Regions from separate parts of the Homo sapiens genome. Here region 1 is linked to region 2. Evidence: fine-mapped expression QTL. A gene starts in region 2. The other region holds a variant in brackets. All regions are shown on one strand. Distances are between the middles of the regions. Region 1 overlaps SART1 (spliceosome associated factor 1, recruiter of U4/U6.U5 tri-snRNP). Region 2 holds the start of DRAP1 (DR1 associated protein 1).

Evidence for each region. PIP is the estimated chance that this variant, and not a neighbour inherited with it, causes the effect. A credible set is the group of variants that fine-mapping cannot tell apart.
Region 1: its variant is the best candidate, but not a certain one, in a credible set for the expression of DRAP1 in whole blood (INTERVAL, PIP 0.59).

The regions. Positions count from the first base shown.
Region 1 is chr11:65,976,227-65,981,584 of GRCh38, forward strand. It overlaps SART1 (spliceosome associated factor 1, recruiter of U4/U6.U5 tri-snRNP), which reads left to right. Exons shown (of 20, transcript NM_005146.5): 13 at 169-342; 14 at 430-540; 15 at 788-875; 16 at 1,337-1,427; 17 at 1,538-1,673; 18 at 2,374-2,463; 19 at 2,567-2,688; 20 at 2,786-3,911. The coding sequence ends at 2,804. Among named protein-coding and RNA genes, the nearest start is that of SART1, 17 kb to the left of the region's middle. The variant G/C (reference allele first, on the strand shown) is at 3,121.
Region 2 is chr11:65,917,072-65,922,429 of GRCh38, forward strand. It overlaps DRAP1 (DR1 associated protein 1), which reads left to right and starts at 2,355. Exons shown (of 7, transcript NM_006442.4): 1 at 2,355-2,472; 2 at 2,709-2,781; 3 at 2,877-2,970; 4 at 3,272-3,391; 5 at 3,498-3,591; 6 at 3,813-3,901; 7 at 4,259-4,492. The coding sequence starts at 2,431. The coding sequence ends at 4,364. It overlaps C11orf68 (chromosome 11 open reading frame 68), which reads right to left and starts at 1,991. Exons shown (of 2, transcript NM_001135635.2): 1 at 1,839-1,991; 2 at 1-1,147. The coding sequence starts at 1,960. The coding sequence ends at 388. RefSeq lists enhancers at 1,108-2,027, 2,028-2,948 and a silencer at 1,745-2,814.

The DNA of each region.
Region 1 (5,358 bases), 59 kb after region 2:
CAGTGAAAGAGGTGCAGAGTGGAGTTAGGCGGCAGATAGCAGCTGGGCCTGCATGGGCTGTGGGCGTGGCCTGTCTGGCTGCTGCCAGGGAGGACCCTTAGGTTCCTGGGTCTCAATGGCATCACCCCAGAAACTGCTGGGTTTGCCCACAGCCGCTCCCTCCCCCAGGTGGTGGAGATTGTGAAGAAGCTGGAGTCTCGCCAGCGGGGCTGGGAGGAGGATGAGGATCCCGAGCGGAAGGGGGCCATCGTGTTCAACGCCACGTCCGAGTTCTGCCGCACCTTGGGGGAGATCCCCACCTACGGGCTGGCTGGCAATCGCGAGGAGCAGGAGGAGCTCATGGTGCGTCTGGGGCGGCCCCGCCCTCTGCTTCCCTCGGCTGGGTGGGCTGGCTGGGGCCTGGGCCGACCCTGGTCTTTTGTGCCCCAGGACTTTGAACGGGATGAGGAGCGCTCAGCCAACGGTGGCTCCGAATCTGACGGGGAGGAGAACATCGGCTGGAGCACGGTGAACCTGGACGAGGAGAAGCAGCAGCAGGATGTGAGGGCCGCGCCGCTGGGGGGTGGGCGTTTGGGGGTGCTCAAGCTGGAGATGAGCACCGGGCTCGGTGTCCAGAGCCTCAGCCTCCTCATCCAGAGTGGGCTCTGCAGACCTCCCAGGGCGATCTGAGGAGTAAATGAGGAAATTAAATGTTGTGGAGGGCTGGTGCCTGGCAGGTGGTGACCAGTGGGTGGGGCTGAGAAGAGCCGGTATGGCCTGCTAACCACCCCCGCCACGTGTCCCGTAGTTCTCTGCTTCCTCCACCACCATCCTGGACGAGGAACCGATCGTGAATAGGGGGCTGGCAGCTGCCCTGCTCCTGTGTCAGAACAAAGGTAGGGAGCTCAGGGCAGCCATGACTTGGGTGGGCTTGGGTGCTGCTGCAGGTGCAGGCAGGGCCCCCTCCGGTCCCCTCTGCTGCCCCTTTCTCTCAGTCCCAATGCTGGAGCCAGCTGTCCGGCCCAGAGCCACTCCTTCCCCTCCACTGTGGCATCTGTCCGTCTGCTCTGCCTTTGAGGCTCCACACCTGCTTGGGGAAGGAGAGGGGAGTTGAAACTGTTCCAGCTGTGGCACAGAGAGCCCTGGTGTTAGGACCCCAGCTCTGCCATTTCCCTGGCCAGTGACCCTTGGCAAGGGGCTCATTTCTGCATCTTTGCTTTGCCTGTAGAACAGGCCTGATGGCTTTCCAGAGGCAAGGAAAGGGAGGTGCCCCCACAGGGCCTGCTCTGCCTTCTCAGGCGGCCCTGGAGCTGTGGCTCTCGAGGGGTTGGGAGTCTCACAACCCCTCCATCCCTAGGGCTGCTGGAGACCACAGTGCAGAAGGTGGCCCGGGTGAAGGCCCCCAACAAGTCGCTGCCCTCAGCCGTGTACTGCATCGAGGATAAGATGTGAGTGTGGTGGGGCCTGTGCAGGGCTGAGGGGCCTGTGCCAGCTTGGAGCTTCGGGACCACAGCAGGCGGCAGCTCCTCACACTAAGGCCTCCTCTGTCTCGGGCCAGGGCCATCGATGACAAGTACAGCCGGAGGGAGGAATACCGAGGCTTCACACAGGACTTCAAGGAGAAGGACGGCTACAAACCCGACGTTAAGATCGAATACGTGGATGAGACGGGCCGGAAACTCACACCCAAGGAGGTGAGCAGGGCCTTTTGCAGGCGGAGGCCCGGCCTGCCACAGGGAGGCCAAGCCCAGGGCCATGCAATGCCCCGGGCCATGCAATGCCCCAGGGTCCTGGCTCCACCAGCCTCTGGCTGGGGGCCTGGTGAATGCCACGGATGGGGAGGGGGCCCTCAGGGCTGAGGAAGGCTGTGCCTCAGTTTGTCTCTAGTGGGCACAGCAGTCTCTTTGCAAGCCTGGCAGGAGGGTCAGACAGGCACTCGGGACCTCTGCCCTCCTGTCCTCACCTGCGTGAGCCCTTCACTGGCTTTCCTGGCCCGCAGGGCCATTCCAGCGTCCAGGCCCTTCCAGCACTCTCGTAGGCCGCCCGACCGTCCTGCCCTACCACTCAGCTGCCCCCTTGCTCTCTGGGGTTTGTCTCCCTGCAGCCCCAGCCCCAGCCCCAGCGTCCAGGCCCAGCCCCTGCGTGGCAGGTCTCCAGGTTCCCCATGCTCTGCCCCCATGGCAGCGCATCCACTAGCCAAGCTGGTCTCCCGGCCTCTGCTGGGGCCCTGCAGGGTGCCAGCGTCTGTGCTCTTTTCCCATCCCCTTCCCACTGCACCCCAGGCCTGGCATTGGGGTCAATCAACACCCGCCCTGTTATTATACACCTTGTGGGCACAGGTGGCTCCGGCCCCACCCAGGGCCCTGCATCTCCTCTCATGCCCCGCGTCCCCAGGCTTTCCGGCAGCTGTCGCACCGCTTCCATGGCAAGGGCTCAGGCAAGATGAAGACAGAGCGGCGGATGAAGAAGCTGGACGAGGAGGCGGTGGGTGCCCTTGGGGATGTGGGGGGCCCTGTGCCTGCCGGGGCAGGGGTGGCTGGTGTGTGGGGCCTGCTGCAGCCCTTTCTGAGTGGCCCCGACCCCTCAGCTCCTGAAGAAGATGAGCTCCAGCGACACGCCCCTGGGCACCGTGGCCCTGCTCCAGGAGAAGCAGAAGGCTCAGAAGACCCCCTACATCGTGCTCAGCGGCAGCGGCAAGAGCATGAACGCGTGAGTGGCTCGAGGCTGGTGGGGTAGGGTGTGGTGGGGAGGGGTGGCGTGGCCTGTGCCCGCCTCTGCAGCCTCACGCCCCTGTTCTTCTCTGCAGGAACACCATCACCAAGTGACAGCGCCCTCCCGCCCCGGCCCTGCCTCAACCTTCATATTAAATAAAGCTCCCTCCTTATTTTTTCCTCCCTGGTCGTGGTACAGATTCCAGGGTTGGATCTTTGGTTGGGTGTGGCACAGAGTCTGGCTCCTGCTAGGTGAGACCTGGCCATCAAATGACACAAACAACTAAACGATGGAAGAGAGAGCGAGCCCGGGTCCTCTAAGGCTCCTTCCTTCTCCCCTGGCTGTCGGTCACACCTCTGCAGGGCCGGCTCTCTGATAGAAAGTGGAAGGCGGTTTTAGAAACTCATCACCCTGCTCTCTCCTGGCCTC[G/C]GGGGCTGCACAGGTCACTGTCCTGTAATGTCTCCCGGTCAGGGCAGCCCAGGACTGCCCAGCCTGGTGGGCTGGGGATTGGGCTTTGGGTAGGGCACAGGTGCCACCTTCTGTCCTGGCTGTCCTGTGCCACCCTGGTCTGTGTCTAGAGGAGTGAAACTCCCAGGGTTGGGCTGGGAGTATTTGGTGCACGCGGTATGGGGAGGGCTGAGCTCAGTGCCTCCTGGGAGACTTGTCCCGTGTACAGTGACCCAGAAAGATGAGATTCCTTGGCCTGAACTCTGTGATAGAGTGTGACTGAGCTGCTGGGGGACATGTGAGCCTCAAATCCATAGAAAGACAAACGGCCACCTTGGGTGCCCAGGATACTGGTGCCTGGCCCCACGTACACCCACATACTTCTCAGATGGCTCCCACATTTTAAGATTTTAAAAATGAAACCAAAAAATAAATTGAAGAAAACTGTAAACTTTAAAGAATAATCAGCTGGGCGCAGTGGCTCATGCTTGTAATCACAGCACTTTAGGAGGCTGAGGCAGGAGGACTGTTTGAGCCCAGGAGTTTGAGACCAACCTGAGTAAGGTGGCAAAACCCCATCTCTACCAAAAATACAAAGATTAGCCAGGCGTGGTGGTGAGCGCCTGTAGTCCCAGCTACTTGGGATGCTGAGGTGGGAGGATCACTTGAACCTGGGAGACACAGGCTGCAGTGGGCCCTGATTGAGCCACCACACTGCAGCCTAGGTGACAGTCAGACCCTGTCTCAAAAAAAATAAAAAAAATTTAAAATAATCTTGGGGTGAGGAAACTGTAGACAAGGTGCAAAACCCAGTAGCCTGAAAATGCATGGTTGGCATTGATGCTGTCGCTTCTGCACGGCTAGAGCTGCGGGGCTGAGTCTTAGCCTGAAAATGCACGGTTGGCACTGACACCATTACTTCTGTGCAGCGGGAGCTGCGGGGCTGAGTCTTTGGGTGCCCTTCCTTGAGCTCTGTATTCTCTATAGTTTGACATCTGACTCTTGATTCTGTTTTCACCTTGGCTGCTTCCTTGGCTTCCTCAGGAAGGGTGTCCTGGGGTGTCTAGGCTGGGACTAGGACTTGGGGCAGTCACAGTCTGTTTCTCTCAAAAGCCTAGGAGGAGGCTGGGAACAGTGGCACATGCCTGTAATCCCAGCACTCTGGGAGGCTGAGGTGGATGGATCACTTGAGGCCAGGAGTTCAAGACCAGCCTGGCCAACACGGTAAAACTCCGTCTTTGACTAAAAATACAAAAAAAAATTGACATGTAGGCTGGGTGCGGTGGCTCACGCCTGTAATCCCAGCACTTTGGGAGGCCAAGGCGGGTGGATCACGAGGTCAGGAGATCGAGACCATTCTGGCTAACACGTTGAAACCCTGTCTCTACTAAAAATACAAAAAATTAGCCGGGCGTGGTGGCGGGTGCCTGTAGTCCCAGCTATTCGGGAGGCTGAGGCAGGAGAATGGCGTGAACCTGGGAAGCGGAGCTTGCAGTGAGCTGAGATTGCGCCATTGCACTCCAGCCTGGTCGACACAGCGAGACTCCATCTCAAAAAAAAAAAACAAAAAACGGCATGATGGCAAGTGCCTGTAATCCCACCTACTCAGTAGAATCGCTGGAGCCCAGGGGGTGGAGGTTACAGTGAGCCGAGATGGTGCCACTGCACTCCAGCCTGGGTGACAGAATGAGACCCTGTTTCAAAAAAAAGGAAGCCTAGGAGGTGCTTCCAGGGTTGGGACTGGGCAGTCAGGTGTCCCTGGCATGGACCCCAGGCCCTGGCCTACTGTCCAAGTCACACCTTGACGTCTGCAGGAAATGGCCCATTAGGAGGCTGTCAAAGCTGCTGTCACAGCTGAAAATGACCGCAGCCTGGGCTAGAGCCCAGGTGGAGCCAGGGTAGAAAAGACCAGCTTCAGCTCTGCAGCCGACTAACTTTCTGGCTCTAGTAACTGGGCAGACTACGTGGTGAACCAGGGGCCTCCTCGTTCGCGCCATCTTGCTTCCTCTCTGCATCTCTGGCTCTTGGTCCTAGCCCAGAGACTTCCCTTCTCTGCCCTGGTGTACTCTGCTCTGCTCCCCAGCTGTGTCCTGCCCATGTGCCCAGGGCTGGGAGGGGTTGGGGACTACCAAATCCCTGGAGGCCTGAGCCCCCAGAGCAGACAGAACCCAAGGCGGCTTCCCACCTCTGCTGCTCGGTAGCCGGACACCAACGGTGCTT
Region 2 (5,358 bases):
CACTAAGTTTTCTCTCTCCTGAGGGGGAAGGAAAGAAGGGGAGATGCAGGAGGAAGGGGAGGTATAGCGGGGGATGAGCGTTCCAAGAAGTCTCTCCTTCTAGGTGTCTGCACCCAACTCATGGTGCTGGGCAGTGGAGAGGAGCAGCATTACAAAGGGAGGCTGAAGGCTCATCCCTCAGGGAACCGGAGCCCCCCAGCCTGTGGGGCTTGTGTCAGCCCTGAACAGAGGGCAGAAGTTCAAGGGGACTGAAGATGCAGGTAGTTCCCAAGTGACCTAGGAGTCCCCAGAGCTGGGGGGTGTGGCCTTCATAGGACAAGGAGGAAGACAGGAGGATCCAACCCCAGCATGGAGGGGGGAGTGGGCAGTCTCCCCAATTTGGCCCCCCTAGGTCAGTTCCACGTTGTTGGCACGGTCAAGCACTCGGGAGCCACGGGCACTACCCCCAAGCTGGAAACGGCTCTCATAGAGAGTGGGGCAGAGGTGCCAGCGATTGGCCCGGTAGATGCCCAGGTAGGTGTAGACATCAGGCTTGTAGGTGAGCAGGCACTTAATGCCCGCTGCACGGATGGCTGAATCCGCCTCCAGTACACCCAAGCGGTCCGTGAAGTCGTCCGTGTAAACACAGATGACCTGGCGCCCACCCTCCTTGGCACGTGGGCTCACCTTGGCCACCTGAAGCTGGCCTTCAACCACGGCCCGGGCAATGCCAGCCCAGGCGTGGTCCAGCTTGAAGCCCGGTGCCAGATGCATAAGCCACTTGCCCGAGAGCACGTGGTGGGTGATGGCGAGCTGGCGCAGGGTACCCGGTGTGATGGGCCGCCCACTGGTCTGCAGAGCTTCCCAGGCTGCCTGCAGGCCCTGCACGTCCCCGGAGTTGGGGCTGTAGCCCTGCCCATACACTGCAATCCAGCCCACAGGCTCTGAGTTGGGTGAACCGGGGTCCCCATAGCGGGTAACTTGGGATGGTGGGTACTTGGCCAGCCAGGCATCCAGCTCAGTGGCAGGCGTTGTGCGGGCATCAAACACTAGCCAGGGGTCCATGTCAGCTGCCATGGCCTCTGCAGCCAGGTGCTCGGCGGTGAAGCCATCCTCACGGCCACCTGGAGAGCCCTCCTCTTCCAGCTCCTCACCTGGTTCCATCCTGCTGTGAGGGAACCGAGTCAGGGCAGGGTCTGAGACAATAACTACAGATGCCAGGCACTGGATTAAACTGTGGCCTTGAGTAAGAGTTACTGTCGATGCGCCTCAGTTGCCTCATCTTTACAATGGGATAACAACTGTTCCTGTCCCGTAGATCTGCTATGAAAATTAGATGCCTGAGGAGTCAGCGCTCCAGAAGGGTTGCTGCAGTTATTACTATTCTCCTTGACTTACAGAAAAGGAAACTGAGGCTGAGAAAAAGGACTTGCCCAAGGTCACACCTGCAGTGCGTGGCAGGGCCGAAGGGTGAATCCAGGCGTGGGAGCAACCAGCCCCAGCTACACCTCCCGGCCCTGCCAAGGCCCCCTTTTCCTGGCAGGTATCCGGTGCGCTGGCATTTAATAGAGGAACGCAAAGAAGCGCACGTTCGCGCAGCTCCCGAGGCCGGCTCTGTAAGGCCAGGCCTCCCAGGCAGGCGTTATCGGGCCCACTTACAGACGAGGACGCTGAAGTCCAGAGAGGTTACAGGCCGTTCCGAGGCCAATGGGGCGGTTCCCAGACTCGAACCAGGGCTTGTTAGAGCCTGCAGGAGAGCCAGGCTCCGGCCGTGCCGCGCCCGCCGCCATTAACGCCCACGGGCCCGAGCTGTGCTCCCGCCCCGGCCCTGCCCTGCCCCTCCCGCCGCCCGCAGTCACCTCCGGCCTTCGCTGCGTTCGACGCCGGCCCAGCCCCGGGCCCGGCTCCGCTCCTGCCGTGGCTCCGCGCCACCGCCACCGCGCCCCACCCCCGCCACGGCCGCCGCCGCCGCCGCCGCCATCTTAGCGCCGCGCCACCTCAACAACAACTTTATAGACAGGCGCAGCCACAGGGCGGAGCCGCGGGCCTCAGCGGCCGCAGCGGCCGCGCTGTGGGGCGGGGCCGGCAGGGGAAGGGGCGGGGCCGACGGGGAGGTGCTGACTCGGGGGCGGGGCCATCGCGGGAACCCCGGGAGGGGCGGGCCGCGGGGGGCGGGGCCAACGTTCGCTCTTCTGGCCTTGGGGGCGGGCGGGAGCGGCGGTCCAGACTGGGGAGGGACGCGCACCGGCCAGGAGGCTTCAAGAGGAGGGCACTAGGGCCCTGCGAGCGGCGTCTTAACCGGCGGCGCTAGGACTCCGCGGGAAACGGCGGGGGCGGAGCGGGCGGCACCAGGACCCAGGGGAACCGCGACGGGCGGGCGGCGAGCAGGCCCGGGAGCCGGGAGGCTGCGGGCGGCGGCGCTGGACCCGACGCGGCGAGAGAGGCCCCGAGATGCCGAGCAAGAAGAAGAAGTACAACGCGCGGTTCCCGCCGGTGAGCACGTGGCAGAGCCCGGCAGGAGTGGGCCCGGCTCCCGGGTGGCTTGGGCCCAGTTCCCGCTGGGCAGGCGGGCGCGCCGCGGTGTTCGGGGGCCTGGACGCCCCGCCCCCTCCATGCCCTCCCCGCGTCCGTGTCCCCCGCCCCCTTTCTCCGGGGATGCCCCTTCCTCCCCCAGCACCCCCTTAGGGGACGGTGGCGACGGGGTCTGAACTCTGCTCCCCCACCCGCAGGCGCGGATCAAGAAGATCATGCAGACGGACGAAGAGATTGGGAAGGTGGCGGCGGCGGTGCCTGTCATCATCTGTATCCTGCCGGGGGCGGACCGGGTCGAGGGGCGTGGGGGAGGGAGGCAGCGGGTCGCCCTCTCCTGCCCCGGAGTTCTCCTTGACGCTCCTCAGCCCGGGCGCTCGAGCTCTTCCTAGAGTCGCTGTTGAAGAAGGCCTGCCAGGTGACCCAGTCGCGGAACGCGAAGACCATGACCACATCCCACCTGTGAGCGGCGAGGAGCCGGGAGGGGCCGGCGGGTTTGGCGCGGGGAGTTCACACACTGAGGAAGGCAGAGCCTGGGTGGCGAGGGAGGTGGGCGGCAGCCGGGACACCAGCAAGGCCACAGACTGGCAGAGGAGAGGCTGGGCTTCCAGGCAGAGGGAGCCACCTGAGTAAAGCAGGGCAGGCCCGGGAGCGGAGATCGGCCCGGGCTCCAGCCTGACATCTGGGGCCCCTTGCTGCCACCCACTGCGGGTTTGGGTGTCTGGGCCCCTCTTGAGTGCCAGCCCCTCCTCACCTCTTCCAGGAAGCAGTGCATCGAGCTGGAGCAGCAGTTTGACTTCTTGAAGGACCTGGTGGCATCTGTTCCCGACATGCAGGGGGACGGGGAAGACAACCACATGGATGGGGACAAGGGCGCCCGCAGGTGGGGCCAGGGCCTGGCATACAGTGGGGAAGGCCAAGGCCACAGGGCTTGGGGGTGGCCAAGGAGTAGGGAGCACTCCGGGCAGATGGACTGTACCTTCCCAAAGGGGCCGGAAGCCAGGCAGCGGCGGCCGGAAGAACGGTGGGATGGGAACGAAAAGCAAGGACAAGAAGCTGTCCGGGACAGACTCGGAGCAGGAGGTGAGTGAGGCCCCAGCCCTTCGCCCTGCCCTTGGTGATGGGACAGGCAGCCTCGCCCCAGGCTGAACTGGCAGGAGGCCAGCTCTCATCCTTTTCTGCAACCTGTTTGCTCACTGGTTTATTTGTAAATTGGGGCTATGAGGGTCTACTGCTGTCCCTGCCACTCCCAGTGATGGGTTCGTGTCTTTTCTTGTCAACTCTGACCTCTGCGGTGCTCACAGGATGAATCTGAGGACACAGATACTGATGGGGAAGAGGAGACATCACAACCCCCACCCCAGGCCAGCCACCCCTCTGCCCACTTTCAGAGGTGAGCAGCCCAGAGGCATGGGAGGGTGCTGGCAGACTCCCCAGAGCCAACTTACCCCTCTTGTTCTCCCTGGCCCCTTGGTCTTGTTGATTGTGGCAGATTTGTGGGGTGGAAGGAGAATAACTGAGGAGGGCTTGAAGGCAGGAGACTGTTCTCCCGAAAGATCCTGCTCCACCCTGCCAGGGCCCGTGGGTGGGGCCTGGGCCTGCCCTGCGTGAGCTGCCCTGGGCCTTGGCCGCATGGATCTGGAGGGTGGTGGTGGGAGGGTCAGATGGGGGAGGGAGGGTCTTGGCAGCTGCCCCTGTGGAGGGCACGGTGGGGCTCAGGCCTGACTCTCTCCTGCCTTCTGCCCTGCAGCCCCCCGACACCCTTCCTGCCCTTCGCCTCTACTCTGCCTTTGCCCCCAGCGCCCCCGGGCCCCTCAGCACCTGATGAAGAGGACGAAGAAGATTACGACTCCTAGCGCCTTCTGCCCCCCAGACCATAGCCCCTTTTAGTTGGTTTTAGTTGCTCTGGGGGGAGGAGAGAAGGTAGAGCTGTTCTTAAATTTATTAAAAAAAAAAATAAAAGGGAATCTCAGTGTCTGTTCCAGGCTCTGCGCAGGACGTCATGGTTGCCATCCCATCCACCCACCTGCCTTCCCCACATGAAACTGGGAGCTGGGGCCGGGTGCGGTGGCTCACGCCTGTAATCCCAACACTTTGGGAGGCTGAGGCGGGCAGATCACCTGAGGTCAAGAGTTCAAGACCAGCCTGGCCAACATGGTGAAACCCCGTCTCTACTAAAAATACAAAAATTAGCTGGGTGTGGTGGTGCATGCCTGTAATCCCAGCTACTAGGGAGGCTGAGGCAGGAGAATCGCTTGAACCTGGGAGGTGGAGGTGGCAGTGAGCTGAGATCACGCCACTGCACTCCAACCTGGGCAGCAGAGTGAGACTCCATGTCAAAAAAAAAAAAAAAAGAAACTGGGAGCTGGGGCCGCGTCAGTGGCAGGTGAGGTGGCAGCGAGGGGAGAGAGGGGTCATCCGGGGAGGCTGGAGGCCCTGGGTCTGCTGAGTGCACCACAGCTGCGGACAGAAGGGAGTTGGGAGAGCTTGCAAGTGCTGGGCATGCGGGGGACACTTGCCACGTGGTGCTGCTGACCCCCGGTGGGCTGCTGACCCCCGGCGGGCTGCTGCCCTGCTCTGAGCAGCCCCTTGTCTCTCTGATGGAGACTGTTCTGCCCCCTGTAGTCTGCTGTGAAGGGATAAGTGGGACAGGGAACAGGTACAGGTCTTGGAAACTGTAGAGTCCTGTGTCCAGTGTAGTGAAGGGCAGGTGGAAAGGAGCAAACATAGAGAGATGGTGGAGGGTCTTGAAGGTGGTTTTTGAGCAGGGCAGTGACACAGTCTGTTCATCCAGATAACCTTTCAGAGCAGACCCAGGAGCTGTGCTGCCTGTAAAGCAGAGGTACTCGG